Linked DNA regions of Homo sapiens. The protein of the gene in region 1 purifies or fractionates together with the protein of each later gene. This does not show direct contact. Each region holds a gene or a part of one and is shown in the gene's direction. Other genes may lie near its edges. The genes, in order: INTU, NCAPG and CPLANE2.

What was found.
Region 2: the proteins of INTU (region 1) and NCAPG purify together in Homo sapiens (affinity purification with mass spectrometry; 2 studies listed by BioGRID and IntAct, with this or other methods). This does not show direct contact.
Region 3: the proteins of INTU (region 1) and CPLANE2 purify together in Homo sapiens (affinity purification with mass spectrometry; 3 studies listed by BioGRID and IntAct, with this or other methods). This does not show direct contact.

What each region holds. Positions count from the first base shown.
Region 1 is NC_000004.12:127,642,829-127,649,956, forward strand, and holds part of INTU (protein inturned), read left to right. Parts: intron 1-692; coding exon 693-1,228; intron 1,229-7,128. UniProt on the Homo sapiens protein: Plays a key role in ciliogenesis and embryonic development.
Region 2 is NC_000004.12:17,813,872-17,820,999, forward strand, and holds part of NCAPG (condensin complex subunit 3), read left to right. Parts: intron 1-981; coding exon 982-1,127; intron 1,128-1,402; coding exon 1,403-1,487; intron 1,488-3,389; coding exon 3,390-3,582; intron 3,583-4,067; coding exon 4,068-4,217; intron 4,218-7,128. UniProt on the Homo sapiens protein: Regulatory subunit of the condensin complex, a complex required for conversion of interphase chromatin into mitotic-like condense chromosomes.
Region 3 is NC_000001.11:16,231,159-16,234,278, reverse strand, and holds the end of CPLANE2 (ciliogenesis and planar polarity effector 2), read left to right. Parts: intron 1-514; coding exon 515-667; intron 668-1,261; coding exon 1,262-1,386; intron 1,387-1,632; coding exon 1,633-1,769; coding exon of another isoform or gene 1,770-1,780; intron 1,781-1,981; coding exon 1,982-2,231; 3' UTR 2,232-2,587; downstream 2,588-3,120. UniProt on the Homo sapiens protein: Required for efficient primary cilia initiation, regulating a late step in cilia initiation. Plays a role in the final maturation of the mother centriole and ciliary vesicle that allows extension of the ciliary axoneme.

The sequences.
Region 1 (7,128 bases):
ATGAATTATGTAATATGTGCTTTTTTTTTTCTACTACAATTTTTCATAAAAAGGAGTTTTATGGAAATTATAGACAGTAAAGTGATCATTACTATATTAACTGTGATTATAAATGGGTTGTTTTCAGGACAGATTTTAGTTCATGGTGAAGTGAATGTTTCTTTTTTGAAAACTTATGTAAAAGTCTGTTAAAGCTGGCTTTAGCTTTCATTTTAACCTGACAGCCATCCTAAATAATTTCTATGCAAATAATAGATTTTCATGTACAATTTCCAAATGGCATGCTTGTGTGGATATAATTGCATAATCAACTGCTAATGCAAATTATCATTCAGTGAAATTGTTTAAAGTGAGCAGTAACCACACAGTGGTTGATTTAATTTTTTTCAACTCATAGATTCTATAAGGGGACCATCTCTTTTTTCATTGGTTTTCCTTTCTATTGCTATGCCTTTTTGATTCCTTCTCCCCCAACTCCTATTCAAAGCTCTACAAAAAAAGCATCCTATATGAAATAATGTTGAGGATCACAATAAATTAGAAATAGTAAGGATAATTTGAAATAATAAAGAAGTTTCACCCTTTCCCATCTTCCTGCTCCCCAGCCCCAACCCTCACCCCCATGCCAGGATGACATACCTTTCTTTTATATATTGGGCTGCTATTAAGATTATCTTTTCTCTCTTTCATAGTGATCTTGAGCCTGAATGGCTGGACAGTGTGCAGAAAAATGGAGAGCTGTTTTATTTGGAATTGAGTGAGGATGAAGAAGAAAGCCTCCTTCCTGAGACACCAACTGTGAACCATGTCAGGTTCAGTGAAAATGAGATTATCATTGAAGATGACTACAAAGAAAGAAAAAAGTATGAACCCAAACTCAAGCAGTTTACCAAAATTTTAAGAAGGAAAAGACTTTTACCCAAGCGCTGCAATAAAAAAAATAGCAATGACAATGGACCAGTATCCATTCTAAAGCATCAGTCCAATCAGAAGACAGGAGTCATTGTCCAACAGCGATACAAAGATGTGAATGTTTATGTAAACCCCAAAAAGCTAACTGTTATCAAAGCCAAAGAGCAGCTCAAGCTTCTGGAAGTGCTGGTTGGAATTATTCATCAGACCAAGTGGAGCTGGAGAAGAACCGGAAAGCAGGGTGATGGAGAGAGGCTTGTGGTTCATGGCCTGCTGCCAGGGGGATCTGCTATGAAGAGCGGTCAGGTACTCATTGGTAAGTGTTGCTGGTACACATCCATCCCTGTTTACAGAGATCTTGATTAATGATGACACCTTGCGGGAAATGTGATAAAAACAATTATATACAGTCTCCACAGATAAAGAACTGATTAATGACATTTGGTACAGTAGAGAAATGGTTACACATGGTGCACTACAAGGCACAGTGTTCTTAAAATGACCAGTTCAGTGTGTTGAGTATGTGTGTGCCTTGTTCAGGCCAAGAAATAGCTTACCTAATTTTCAAGTTTTGAATTATATAATTTTATTTCATCTTGGTTATATTTGCTGACAAGAAAAAAAACGTTGATCATAGAGTGATAATTTAGGTTTGAATGGCTATATCCAGTAACAGGATACAAAAATATATAATTTATGAATAAAAATACTTTTAAATTGTATGTTTGCACTTGAGTACACTAAGTTCTTGGAGTGGTTTTCAACTGTTTCATTTGGCATATTTTGCAACAGTGGTGTTATATATAAATTTCCTTTTAAGGGCGTGTGTCATAAAATATATCTGTCATAAAATAGCCCACCAATTTTCAAGAAAAATAAACCCACAAATTATTCTGAATATATATTAAGATGAACATTTTGTGTTGCTGATAAATTTTAAGCTGTTAGATACAATGTTTGAGTTAGTAGCAATCTAATTACTTAAAGATAAATGAGTAAAATTTGAGGATATATTATTACTAAAATTTAAAAGTAATAACAGTTCTAAAAGCTGACAGTCTTTTAAGTTTATCTAGCATAAGAGGTTTAAATGAAGAACATTTACAGATAAATTTACAAATATTTCCAACTTTAAATCTGAATTTCATTTGTTTGTTCACTGATTTGACAGTTTGTTTTTTTAGCATCTGCTAAGTGCCAGGAATACAAAGATTACTTTACTGATCCAATTATTTCTTGAAAGGAGCTATGTTTTAGTGGAAGAGACGGGTTACAGATAGGCAGGCAGCTCCTCACTGTCTGATAAGTGTCATCATAGGGGTTTACAAGGAGGATCATATGGAATCTTGTAAGAAGGGCATCTGTGGCAAAGTATGTGTTCCAGAATGATCTCAACAGGATCTGCACACTTTCTTAAAATGTAGTGTTGATACTCCTCCCATGGAGAGTTGTGCTCTGTGTCATTGAATCTGGGTGGGCCGGTGACTACAGCTTAATTGGTGCCATGTGACTTAAGAGGTTGGATCATAAAAGGTGATGCAGCTTCTGCCTGGTTATTTTGGGGATACTTGCCCTTAGAACCCAGTCACCATTGTGTGAAGAGGTCAAGACACCAGTGATCCAGCTGATAGCCCCAACTGAAGCCCTCGCCACCAGATGTGAGTGAGAAGCCTTTAAGATGACTCCAGCCCCAACCACCATCTGCCTGTAACTGCATGAGGAATCCCAAGTGAGAACCACAGCTGACCCCAGTTAACCCCAGAACCAGGAGAGATGATAAATTATTGTTGTTGTTATTTTTTTATTTTTTATTTTATTTATTTATTTATTTATTTTTGAGATGGAGTTTTGCTGTTGTCACTCAGGCTAGAGTGCAATGGCACCATCTTGGCTCACTTCAACCTCTACCTCCCGGGTTCAAGCGATTCTTCTGCCTCAGCCTCCTGAGTAGTTGGGATTACTGGCACCCACCACCATGCCTGACTAATTTTTTTGTATTTTTTAGTAGAGATGGAGTTTCACCATGTTGGTCAGGCTGGTCTTGAACTCCTGACCTCAGGTGATCCACCCGCCTCAGCCTCACAAAGTGCTGGGATTACAGGCGTGAGCCACCGTGCCTGGCCAACTGTTGTTGTTTTAAGCCTCAGAATTATTTGGATAGGCCTGGCGTGGTGGCTAACACTTGTAATCCCAGCACTTTGGGAGGCCAAGGTGGGCAGATCACTTGAGGCCAGGAGTTTGAGACCAGCCTGGCCAACATGGCAAGACCCCGTGTCTACTAAAAAATACAAAACTTAGCTGGGCCTTGTGGTGCATGCCTGTAATCTCAGCTGCTGGGGAGGCTGGGGCACGAGAATCACTTGAACCTGGGAGGCAGAGGTTGCAATGAGCCAAGATTGTACCACCGCACTCCAGCCTGGGGGAACACAGTGAGACTCTGTCTCAAAAAAAAAAAAAAAAATTGTTTGGATGACTTATTATGCAACAATAGATGACTGGAACAGGGGCTAATACATACTTACATTCTCTTGGGTCCTCTACTTTCCTTCTTGTGAAATGATAGGATAGAACTAAATATCTCTATGGTTTGTTCTTTTAGTTCTGTAAAAGGAGCCAGAATTCATTTAACGTGCCCCCCTTTCAGTGGTGTTTCCTGTGAGTTGGTAGTTAGATCTTGAGGCCTATCAAACATATTTTATAGGTGGTCTGTGTGCTTCCATCAGGAACAACATATTATCTGCTGTTTTTCTTTTTGTGATATTAACAGTTATTGATGATCATTGCCTAAATCCATTAATTCATTAAGGGACTGCAAAATGGTGATATTCCAATTCTGTCAGTCTTTCTCAATATTTCAGTTAGACTACTTTCATAAAAAGAAGCTCCCCCTCACCTCTGGTAACCTTGACATATGGTTTAGACAGGAAAGGCAGGATAAATGTCTGATTTTTCTTCATTTAACAGTTTTCACAAAAGCAAGTTGGTACCATTATTCAAGGACTTCAGAATGGTAGGTTGGGAGGGGCCTTAATTCTCTCTAGTTTGGTGCCCACATATTATAGACGAGGGGTTGAGATTGAAACTCAAAAAAAAATAACAAAATTTATTGTTAGTAAATGCATTGGCAGAAAACATTGAGTTTTGAATGTATAAAATGGCAGTATAGTAACTGCTTTTCAAAAACCAGATTCCCTTTCCCTGAAGTCAAATTTGGCTTAATTAAAAGGATCAATTTCAATTCACAATTTGATCTCATTTTTCTGTCCCATACATATGTGCCACTCCTTCTATCCATAAATCCCCACCTCTAACAAGCAAGCCTGATTTATTTTTTTCCTAACTGACCTCCAGATACACCTTGTGTGTCCATCTTTGCTTTTTAGCATTCGTGATTCCTTTTTTGGTGCATCACAAAGATTGCTTTGTATTACTAGGCTAGTGCATTCATCTTCTATTGCTGCCGTGACAAATTACCACAAACTTAGTGGTTTAAAACAATACAGATTTATCATCTTGCAATAATGTAAGCCAGAAATCTAAAATGGGTCTTCTTGTATGAAAATCAAGGTGTCCACAGGGCTACATTCCTTTTGGAGGCTCCAGGGAAGAATCCCATTCCTTGGCCAGCTTTCAGAGGCTACCTGCATTCTTTGGCTTGTGGTCCTGTCCTCCATCATCAAAGCCAGCAGCATAGCATCTTCCAGTCTCTCTCATGCTGACCCTGACACTTTTGCCTTCCTCCTATAAAGACCTTTATCTTTACCTGACGATCATTCGGATAATCCAGGACAGTCTTCCAATCTTTTAAGTTAATTACAACTGCAAAGTCCTTCTTGCTGTGTAAGGTAGCATATTCAGAGATTTCAGGGATTGAAACATAGACATCTTTGGGGGGCAATTATGCTGCCTACCTCAGTGGGGGGTTTTTTGGTAAAATATGAGTTTTTTTTCTTTTTGTGATAGTAATAATATACGTTCATTGTAGACAATTTAGAAAATACAATTAAGCAAAAAAGAAAAATTCCATATACCCAAAGACAACATTTTGTTATATATCCTCCCTTTTCCTACATTTATATACAATAATCTTTTGTCAAAAATAATTTAAGTTGTATATTCATTTTATATATAGTATAAACACAGCAGTAAACAAACTTTTGCATATATATTTTCATAGCCCTTGGTGCCTTATGTAGTAGCCCTTTAGTACACATGTTGTTTGATGTTAAGTATATACTGAGAAATTGATGGCTTTTCTCACATAATTTAACTTTACATTGAGGAACTGTGATAAACTGATCTCTTTTTAAAATATTTTATTTGGTTCTTAAATATATCTCTTAATAAAAATTTTCTCATATTTCTACCCAGGCCATTTCTTATTTAACAATGCAAATCAATCATATAATTCATTCCCTTTTAGCCTTTGAAATGGGACAGATCATATTAATGACTCCCGTGTACTTATGGAGAAAGACCTTTCCTTGGGTTTAGGATGTCCACTGCAAAGGTGCGATGTCCGGGAAGCCAGCCATCTCTGAGTCACTTCACAGAAGTGTTCAGAAACACTAGAGGAAAACAAATGTCTGGGAGAATGAGAAGTGGATATAATATTTATTTCATAGAATGGGAAAATTTTCTACTAAACATTTAAAAATATTGGGTATACTACACTTGCTTTCAGAATTTATTTTCATATATTTTTATGATGAACCATCTCCTCTTTTTAGAGGTTTGTTAGACTTGATAATTTTAGATAATACTCCCTATAACACTCAGCTACAGGAATGTATTCATTAGGATTTGGAGAAAAAAGTCATTTGGCACATCATCCAATGGAGTTTTAGTTTAAAGTAACAAATTTAAAATGTTTTTACTATTTCTGTGCCCTGAGGATAACAAACTATAGACAACAGAACTAATCATTAGGATAGTCCAAAAGTGGTTTCATTTTACATTGACACAGCTATACTGTGTCCATCATTCCTTTATTTTCTTTTAATCACTACAGCTATAAGTAATTTGATATAGTACTTTTGTTTAATCTCTTATATAGGAGAAATTAAACAGGCATCTTGTTGTGTTTTTTTTTTTCCAAGTGGACTTCAAGTTGAAAGTTTATTTTGGTCTGCAAGTTCTTACTTTTAAGAAAAGTTTGTCCAAAGTGCTGTAATAGTTAACCATCATAATGACTTGGTGCCCATGCTTGCAAAACTCCCATCTGAGTTGTATCTCTTGAGCATCTAAACCTAGTTCAAGCCTTCACAGTTGGCCTAAGAAAGTACTCCTGCTTACTCTGCACTTAACCCCATTCTCATTCAATAGAGTATCAAGGAGAGGAAGGAAAAAAAGGAGGAATAGCAGTACCTACAGTGGCAACATTTTCATCTGTTTGCCAACCCTACAGATGGCCAAGTGATGCCTAATAATGGGTTGCCTTAAAGGAAAGGAACTCTGAACTTAGGGAACACCAATCTTTTATAAAGAACAGTTATTAATAATAAGATATTGAGCACAGCATTGACCTTATTATACCATTCAGTAAACAAGCTTGACCTTTGCTCAGGATGGAAACATATCTCTGTTGTCCAAGGCTGTTCATTACACGAACGTCTTTGAAAAGACAGTCTAGAACAAAGACTCTCAATGCCTCGGCTTGTAAGATGTACAGAAACATGAGACTCATGAAGAATTATCTACCAACACGATTCTACATATACAGGTTGAGTACTCCTTCTTCAAAATACCTGGGACCAGAAGTGCTTCCAATTTTTTTTTTTTTAATATTGCATTATACTTACCTGTTGAGCATCCCAAATCTGACAATCCTAAATCCAAAATGCTCCAATGAGCATTTCCTTTGAGGGTCACGTTGGTGCTCAAAAAGTTTTGGATTTTGGAGGATTTTGGATTTTCAATTTTTGGATTTGGGATACTTAGCCTGTATACATGTTTATTATCCATCTTCCCCAAAGAATATTAAGCTCCCTGAGAGTAGAGATTTTGTCTTTGTTCAATTCTTTGTCTCTAGTGCTTAGAAGAGTGCCTGGCACACATTAAGTGCTCAGTAAATATTTCTTAAATGAATGGATGAATATGAATTATTTCATCAATTTCCTAATAATATATTTAGGAATGATGAGAAAAATAACTTTGGTATGTCTATATTTCTATTAATATAGCTCACTGGTATTTTGATAGTATCTTTAATTATGT
Region 2 (7,128 bases), about 110 Mb from region 1:
TTGTCCCTATTACCAGTTTTATAATCACTGGTATATTTATCACTATAGTAGTTGGTATTTTTTTTGGTGTTAAAAGATACCCATAATAATATTGTGTAAAACATAGGTATTTGATAGTCAACCTGTACTTAATAATTGAGGTAGGAAAGATGTGAGAAGTACAGATAAATATATTTAAATATAAGAAATGGGTTTGTTTCAATGAATAAAACCAAAAAATATTTCCTTTTAGGTCTCATTAAAAACCAAAATAATGGGCCCTTATAAAGCCATATCAGTTTAAAATAAACTGTCTGCTATAGTAAGCTTTCTCTTAAATATTGAGGAGTAGCACAGACATAATCTTAATGATGAATTTTCTGTGACTTTTAGGGCTATTTGTTTTCACTTTTGGCCTAAGAGCCAGTCCGTTGACTAATTCCCCCTTGTGTCTTTAGAAGGGAAGTTGGTGGCCTGCGCAGCAGTGACTCAGGCCTGTAATCTCAGCACTTTGGCTCCAACCTGGGCAACATAGTGAGACCTTGTCTCCAAAAAAAAGAAAAAGAAGGAAGTTGGTGGGAAAAAAACTTCAACTAAAATATGTGAGACTAAAAAAATGACATTACTTTCTATTACAGATGGGTTCTCACTCGGGCTGGATTGCAGAGGTGTGGCCTCAAACTCCTGGGCTTAAGTGATCCTTCCACCTCAGCCTCCTAAGTAACTGGAAGCGCCACTACCATGCCTAGCTAATTTTTTATTTTAAAATTATTTTGTAGAGACAGGGGTCTTTCTATATTGCTCAGGCTGGTCTTGAACTCTTGGCTTCAAGCTCTCCACCTACCTTGGCCTCCCAAAGTGCTGGTTATAGGCAGTAGCCATCATGCCCAGCCTATCTTTATCACATTAAAGGCATTTTAAAATATCAAAATGTGTGTTATTTTATGACTGTAGTTAAATAAATAATTTCATCAGTACTAAAATGTATTGCTTTATTTTTAGCATATGCTACTTTGATTGAAAATGATTCAAATCCAGAAGTTAGACGGGCAGTGTTATCATGTATTGCACCATCAGCAAAGACTTTGCCAAAAATTGTAGGGCGCACCAAGGATGTGAAAGAGGCTGTCAGAAAGCTGGCTTATCAGGTAAATAAGTTCAATGTCTTGTGTTGGCATATTCTTAAAGGACAAGGAGCCATTTTCTTAAAGTGCCTTTGAAAAATACTTGGCATGTAATAATTTCTTCAGTTGAGGTTTTATGGAGAACACAGGTAATTTAGGTAGAATCTTACTGTATTAAGTATGTTACCAGGTATTAATTTCTTTTGGAGATTCTGGGTAATTTTCTAAGATGGTGATATTCTTATGAAATCTATAAATTGTGTTGAGGTTAATGACCATCTTTATAAATTATTTTTAAGGTTTTAGCTGAAAAGGTTCATATGAGAGCTATGTCCATTGCTCAGAGAGTAATGCTCCTTCAACAAGGTCTTAATGACAGATCAGGTAAGATAAACAACTTTATATATACAAAACTTTAGTAGATTTTGAGGTCAGACTTAACAAGGTTTAAGAAACGAGTGTCAAATCAGGTCAAGTAAGCCTGCCAGTCCCATGAACCTGGTGAAATTTATCTTGATGTATTATATAGAAAACACAGGGCTAAAGATTTTGATATATATATATTTTTGAGACAGAGTCTCACTCTATCACCCAGACTGGAGTGCTGTGGTGCAATCTTGGCTCACTGCAACCTCTGCCTTCTAGTTTCAAGCGATTCTCCTGCCTCAGCCTCCTGAGCAGCTGGGATTACAGGTGAACATCACCATGTCTGGTTAATTTTTATATTTTTATAGAGACGGGGTTTCACCATGTTGGCCAGACTGGTCTCGAACTCCTGACCTCAAGTGATGCACCTACTTCAGCCTCCCAAAGTGTTGGGATTACAGGTGTGAGCCACCGCGTCTGGCCAAGATCTTGGTATTTTGAAGGAGCAGAGCTTATTTCTTTCACCCTTTCTGTATTTTACAGATGGAGAAACAATACTTAAGTCTGTAGAGCTAATTCATGTCAGAAGTAGGAAAAGATCTATTTGCCCTCTCTCTCTGACTTAAAAAAAAAATGCTGTTCCTTATGTGTATACTTTGGTATGAATGTGTTCTGTGTATCAGAAACAACAAATAGGAATGGTCAGACCAGTATAATTTTCTTATTTTTTTTTTTTTCTGTTAGAGTAGAGTTCCCCAACATTTTTGACACCAAGGATCGATTTCATGGAAGACAGTTTTTCCACAGAGGGCGGGCTGGATGGTTTCCAGATGAAACTGTTCCACCTCAGATCATCAGGCATTACTTAGATTCTCATAAGGAGCGTGCAACCTGGATACCTCATGTGCGCAGTTCACAATAGAGTTCCTGCGCCTGAGAGAATCTAATGCATCTGCTGATCTGACAGTAGGAAGAGCTCAGGTGGTAATGCTCGTTAGACCACGGCTTACCTCCTCCTGTGCGGCCCGGTTCCTAACAGGCCACAGACTGGTACTAGTCCGTGGCCCAGGGGTTGGGGAGCCTGAGAGAATCTGCTTATAGGAATGATATTTTTTGAAGTTTTTAACTCTCATGAGAAGGCCAAGATGGCTCTATTGCGCTGTAGTGAGAAAACCGACTTGCGTTTGAAAACATTGTCAGAGGACTAATTAGTAGGATGACCTTAAAAGCTAAGACTAAGGTTTGTTCAGTGACGTGTGCTTGTATAGTTCACTACTGCAAATAGCAATCGTGTAATAGATAAAATCAGATAACAAGTGAGATAATAGCTATTACATATTCTGGGCTAACACCTGAAGCCCATTGAACCCAGGGGAGAAGGAATGTAAAGATATTTTTGTAGGCTGTGGTATTTGGTGCTGAACCTTTTCCATTTTTATTTGTAAGTGACCATTACAGTGACTTTTGCAGTATCATGGTACTTCTTTTTTTTTACCTTTAATATGCTTAGTTGGCTGGGCGCTATGGCTCACACCTGTAATCTCAGCACTTTTGGAGGCCGAGGCAGGCGGATCACGAGGTCAAGAGATTGAGACCATCCTGGCCAACATGGTGAAACAAAAATTAGCTGGGCGTGGTGGCGCATGCCTGTAGTCCCAGCTACTCGGGAGGCTGAGGCAGGAGAATCGCTTGAATCTGGTAGGTGGAGGTTGCAGTGAACCAAGATCGTGCCACTGCACTCCAGCCTGGTGACAGAGCGAGACTCTGTCTCAAAAAATATATATATACATGCTTAGTTGTGCCTCTTAACCTCTACTATTTCTATTGTAAATACTGACTTTGTTAATTAAAACAGACAAAATACAAGAGATGGAAGCTAGAGGGAGCCTTTGTTCACCTATGTTTCAAATGACTCAATAGATGCTGTGAAACAAGCTATGCAGAAGCATCTTCTTCAAGGCTGGTTACGGTTCTCTGAAGGAAATATCTTAGAGTTGCTCCATCGGTTGGATGTAGAAAATTCTTCTGAAGTGGCAGTCTCTGTTCTCAATGCCTTGTTTTCAATAACTCCTCTCAGTGAACTGGTGGGACTCTGTAAAAACAATGATGGCAGGTACATAAAGGATTCATTCTTTGAAATGTAGTACTGATTAACTTGTGCAATTAATTTGTTTTTTTTCCTCCCCATAGCTTAAGATTATATTAATACCTTTAATCTTAACTCTCTTTTGTTTTCTTTTAGTCTGATGAATATCCTTTTATCCTTCCTTTTTCCCCTCCTGGTGTAAGAACTCATAACTTTATCATAGACTATCTACTTTAGCTATGCTTTTCCCCCCTTCAGTTTCTTACTTTGATTTTTGAATTAGCCTACCATGAGAAAATCCAGCAACATGCACCCCTAGTATATGTTTGCTTATTTGGTTCTTTTTTGTTCTAAGTTTCTTCATTCCTTTTTGTGTGGATACATTAATGACTCTAATTAAAAGGATAGTGTAGTGGTTTTAAAGCAAATCTTATTATTCTCATTTTTGTACTCTTCAATTCTTAATGATAAAAAGATCATGCTTTCTCTCACACTCTTTCTTTTAAATGAAGGAAATTGATTCCAGTGGAAACATTAACTCCTGAAATTGCTTTGTATTGGTGTGCCCTTTGTGAATATTTGAAATCAAAAGGAGATGAAGGTGAAGAATTTTTAGAGCAGATTTTGCCAGAGCCTGTAGTATATGCAGACTATTTATTGAGGTAAATTTTTTTTCTTTTAGTTTGGAGAGTGATTGTGTTGCTGCATGTGTCAATCTCCCAGTCCCCTTCCTCAAAGTCATGTTTGATTGTGAATATGTTAAAAATCCTTTTTTTGTACATGTAGGGATAGTTATATACATCGAGTCTTTTTGAATATCTTGTGCTGGTCTGTATACTGAAAGAGCAAGTCACTATGTTTAGGATCATTTCTTCAAAACTGTTAAGATATGATTATGACCATTTCTGCATAAAGTTGATGATGATGATATATTATTTCTGAAATTGGTTGGCACATTTTCTGTTAAGTGTCAGATAATAAATATCTTAGGGTCCTGTGGGCCATACCGTCTGTCACAATGACTCAACTCTGCCATGGTATTGTAAAAGCAGCCAAAGACAATGTAAGTAACTGTTTTTCAATAAAACTTTTATTGACTTTTATGGCCACTAAATAGTTGAACTTTAATATTCATGTGTTAACAAAATAAGAAATTTTAAAAAATGATCAGTTAAAAATTTAAAATAGTCTTAGCTTGCAAGCTATATAACAGGTAATAGGCTGGATTTGATGCACGGAACATTGTTTTCCAATTCACAGCGTGGATCTTTGTGGCCAGTTTTATTTATTAAAAACTTACTATCTAGCTTCATGTTTTAAAGTTTTTTCAAAATATGCCTTTTTAAAAAACAATTTGGATTACCATAATTATACCTCTTAAGAAATTATTTGGATTACTTTATTTCACTTTAAAATTATACAAGAAAAACATGAATGCATTCTTGTCAAAATTCAAATACAGAGGTATAAGGAATAAAAATGTGGAATTCCCTCTTTTATTTCCTACTTCCTCAATCCCATTGATTAGCAACTAAGTGTATATTCTAGCAACCCTTAGAATTAGCAACTAAACAATATAGGGTGTATATTCAAACCTCTTTCTCTGCATTTATATACATTTTTTGAGTACAGGTTTCTTTAAAAATATAACACTGTGTATATACTTTTTTTTTCAACTGATAACTGAGATCATTATATATTGGTGCATATATAATGTAATAGATACTGTTACAGTCTTAACAGCATATCATTCCGTAGTATGGTGGTAACATTTAATTTATTCCTCTGTTGATGGACATTTAGGATGTTTCCATTTTTCACTGATAAAAGCAAAAGTATGTTAAATTTCCTTTACATTTTTGGGTACCTTTGGGATTTTTGGGGGTTAATTCCAAGAAATAAGTTGCTACACCAAAGGATAATATATGTATATTTTGATAGATATTGGTATGTAGGTTTTTAACTTCAACTTTATGGTTTATTTTTTTTTTTTTGAGACGGAGTCTTGCTCTGTCGCCAGGCTGGAGTGCAATAGTGCAATCTCGGCTCACTGCATCCTCCGCCTCCCGGGTTCAAGCGATTCTCTTGCCTCAGCCTCCTGAGTAGCTGGGACTACAGGCACGCGCCTCCATGCCCAGCTAATTTTTGTATTTTTAGTAGAGATGGGGTTTCACCATGTTGGCCAGGATGGTCTCAATCTCTTGACCTCGTGATCTGCCTGCCTTGGCCTCCCAAAGTGCTGGGATTACAGGCGTGAGCCACAGCGCCCAGCCTGATGTATTTTTTTAAAAAAGCTTCCATATAATATGAATTATGGACCTGAATTATCTGTATGAAGTACAGTTCTCTGCTTTTGTTTAAAATGATCTCACATAAAAGTTAGGCAGCAAAGCTGTGCATGCCTCTAAATTTCCCCTCAAAAATCCTAAATCTAGGATAAGTATCTCAAATGTGAGCCAGTAGGGAAACTATAGCTCAAGCCCATGTTAACATCATGAAGAACCTGTGTGAATCTAATGAGCATTTTAATGTTAATTATTTCAGACTTTGACATTTAAGTAGGGAATTCATTATAATGCTGTTTGGGCCATGTTGAAATGTTTCCAAAAGGAATGAGTTTGTGGCAAAGTTTAATAATATATATAAATATAAAAGATGTTTATAGAAGGTAGTGAAAATATAAGAAAATATGAGGAAATGTTAAATATTTAAATGGCATAAAGGGGGAGGAGTTTTCCTCAAGGACAGCATCAGAAGGTGACTTGTAAAAAGCTTGATTCCTCCCTTCTGAAAGGTCAGGGATTAACATTTCCTTTGTCACTCTCTTAGTTTTGAAATAAGTAACTTTAACCTCTTCGACTTATTTTCTTCACCTTTAAAGAGGAAAATTTTCGGCTGGGTGCGGTGGCTCATGCCTGTAATCCCAGCACTTTAGGAGGCTGAGGCCGGTGGATCACGAGGTCAGGAGATCGAGACCATCCTAGCCAACATAGTGAAACCCCGTCTCTACTAAAAATACAAAAAAATTAGCTGGGCGTGGTGGCAGGCGCCTGTAGTCCTAGCTACTCGGGAGGCTGAGGTAGGAGAATAGCGTGAACCTGGGAGGTGGAGCTTGCAATGAGCCGAGATCGCGCCACTGCACTCCAGCCTGGGCAACAGAGCAAGACTCCGTCTCAAAAAAAACAAAAAAAAGAAAACTTTCAGAAATTTATTTTAGTGATTGTTGAAAGAATACCTAAAAAATAGAATGAGTGTCTTTTTGGAGGAACATGACTAGATGGGATTAGTATACTTGAGTACAGAAACAAAATTAAATTGAAAAATTGTTTCCTGATAATCTCAGGAATATGTTTTCAGGCATACTGTATATTTTAGGCAGTAGATTCAATGACTAAGAACTCTGATGTGAAACAATTTTGGTTAACCAAGGTGCTCACTTAAAGAGCAAACGAGGAAATGAGGATTATCAAATTAGAGTAAGTAAAAGGGACAACAATAAAATTTGTTGAAAGCCATCTTAAATATAAATTCTTAGACTTTAAAATACTTTCTTGAGTGGTCTCTTCATTATAA
Region 3 (3,120 bases), on another chromosome or scaffold:
GCACCCACCACCACACCCAGCTGATTTTTGGTATTTTTTTTTGTAGAGATGGAGTTTCACCATGTTGGCCAGGCTGGTCTCGAACTCCTGACCTCAGGTGATCTGCCCGCCTTGGCCTCCCAAAGTGCTGGGATTACAGGTGTAAGCCACCGCACCAGGCCTCCTCTGTGTAATTTATAATGAACAGAAGCTTATTTGGCTCATGGTTCTGGAGGCTGGGAAGTCTAAGAACATGGCAGCAGCATCTGGAAAGGGCCTTCATGCTGTGTCATCCCGTGGCAGAAGGCAGAAGGGCAACAGCAAGACAGCAAGAGGCGCCCAAACTGGCTTTTATAACAAACCCACTCCCTCAATAACAACATTAATCCATTTATGAGGGCAGCTGATCACCTTGTGTTAGGCCCCACTTCCTAACACTGGTGCATTGGCGATTAAGTTTCCAACACATGAACTCTGGGGGACACCTTCAAACCACAGCACCCCTTGACCCTGCCTGGCTCTCTCTTTGCCCTAGGGCTGCTTGAGCGGCCAGTGCTGCTGCCGCCTGTGTCCATTGACACTGCCAGCTACAAGATCTTTGTGTCCGGGAAGAGTGGTGTGGGCAAGACGGCGCTGGTGGCCAAGCTGGCTGGCCTGGAGGTGCCTGTGGTGCACCACGAGACCACCGGTGAGTGGGACCTCTATCCTTTGCCCATCCTGGGAGGCCCTCCTTGGGGGTGGAGGCAAGAACCTGGCCCTGGACCACCTCTTACTCTGTAGCCTTGGAAAGTCACTTCACGTCTCTGAGCCTACATGGGCTCCTTGGTCCCAAGGGGATAATAGTACCACAGGGTTGTTGTGTGGTTGCCACTAGAGGTGGTGGTGGTGGTAACATGCCTAGCATCAAGCTACGCTCAAGGTAAATGCTCAGGAAATGCTAATCTTGCTTTGTTGTTTCTCACCACTGGATGCTGATTGTTCCACCATGTTGAAACATCTCCCAGCGTCCTGGGCCCTTTGGGTCTCCCTGGACATACAAACGAAACTTGCTTTGCCATAGCTAGGGCTGCATCTTCCTGGTGTACCAGAGTCTCCTCCAGGGCCAGTTTCTGTTTCTCCCATCAGACTGAGAATTATCCCGGGTCAAGGACTGTGCCTCCCTCATCAAACTAGGGACCCATCAGGGCAGGGATGTATCTCTTCTTCCTATTCCTTCCTGGTCCCCTATTCCTCCCATCTCCACCTCTCCCATGGTGAGTGGCTGACCCTGGCTCCCCCTCAGGCATCCAGACCACCGTGGTATTTTGGCCAGCCAAGCTGCAGGCCAGCAGCCGTGTCGTCATGTTTCGTTTTGAGTTCTGGGACTGTGGAGAGTCTGCACTCAAAAAGTTCGATCATATGCTGCTGGTGAGCAGGCATGTGGGCCTGGGTGGGTTCTGCCAGGGGCCGATTGGGTATTAATGAGCTCAAGGCACTGCTCAGAGACCTGAGCTGGCACTGGAGACAGTCCCAGCCCATGCTTGTCCTAGGACCAGCCGCTCCTTGCTCTGGGCCTCAGTTTCCCAATCTGTGAAAGGAGGGATTATTCCTGATTCTTCTGAGGGCCCTGCAGCTGATGGGGGGTGACATGGTTATATGCCTCTCCATCACCAGGCTTGCATGGAGAACACAGATGCCTTCCTCTTCCTCTTCTCCTTCACTGACCGTGCCTCCTTTGAAGACCTCCCTGGACAGCTGGCCCGCATAGCAGGTGAGGCCCCTGGTGTCGTCAGGATGGTCATCGGCTCCAAGTATCCTTTGGATATCCTTGGCAAGTCACGGAGCCAGGGGGTCAGGGGCCCAGCCTCTGCCCAGGCATGGAATTCAGCACCTGGGCTTTTACTTAAAGGGTACAGCATGGCTACCCCAGCTCCTGGGTGTGGGCTCCAGGGAGGAGGGAGAGGCAGGGTCTGATGGGGGGCTGTGCAGAGGCACCCAGTTAGGCTCCTTGACCCTCCTCCAGATTTGACCAGTACATGCACACGGACGTGCCCGAGCGGGACCTCACAGCCTTCCGGCAGGCCTGGGAGCTGCCCCTGCTACGGGTGAAGAGTGTGCCGGGGCGGCGGCTGGCTGATGGGCGCACACTGGACGGGCGGGCTGGGCTGGCCGACGTTGCCCACATACTCAATGGCCTTGCTGAGCAGCTGTGGCACCAGGACCAGGTGGCGGCTGGCCTGCTTCCCAACCCCCCAGAGAGTGCTCCTGAATGAGTCACGAGTGGTTGCCTGTGATCCCACCCCCAACCCTCAGGTCTCGACATAGGGCTGGAGGCTGGGGCAGGAACATGGATCCTATCTGGAGGACTGGCCAGCATGGCCTGATCAGGGAGGATGTGGCCAGAGAAGGCCCACCCGCGAGCAGCGCTTTCCTTGCAGAATTCATGGCAGGGAGGTGGGGACCAAGGCCCTGAGCTCGAACATCTCCCGTGGCCTTTCCCCCTTTGGCAGCACCGATGGAGGATGACTGGGAGAGGGGGTGCCTCTCAAGTTACTTCAATCAAGAACCTGTATTGGTTGAGGTGACACCATCTGTTGTAACAGATAAACCCCGAAATCCCAGTGCTGAACTCCAGAGACGTGTTCGTTCTCACGTAGGCCTCAGCTCGGGAGGAGGTGACAGTGGGCGTGGGGCTCTGCTCCAGGCGCTCCTGCAGAGACCCAGCCCCAGAGACCCTACCCTGCCCAGTTGCCCTAGGGTGTCAGCACCCAGTCAGCAGCCAGGGAGTGAGTGCAGGCAGGAGGTGTCCCCCCGCTTTCTGTGGACCAGGCCCAGGGTGGCACCTCATTCTGCCCACATTCCAGAGGCCAGCACCCAGCAGTCATGTGGTCATGTGGCGCTGTGGGGGAGGCTGGGACATGGAGTCCACCTGTGAGTCCAGGAGTTAAGCCCGTCGCGCTGCAGGGCCCTTTTTTTTTTTTTTTTTTTTTTTTCCAGAGTCTTGCTCTGTGGCACAGGTTGGAGTACAGTGGTGCACTCTCAGCTCACTGCAACCTACACCTCCTGGGTTCAAGCGATTCTCCTGCCACAGCCTCCCAAGTAGCTGGGATTACAGATGCCAACCACCATGCCTGGCTAATTTTTGTATTGTTAGTAGAGATG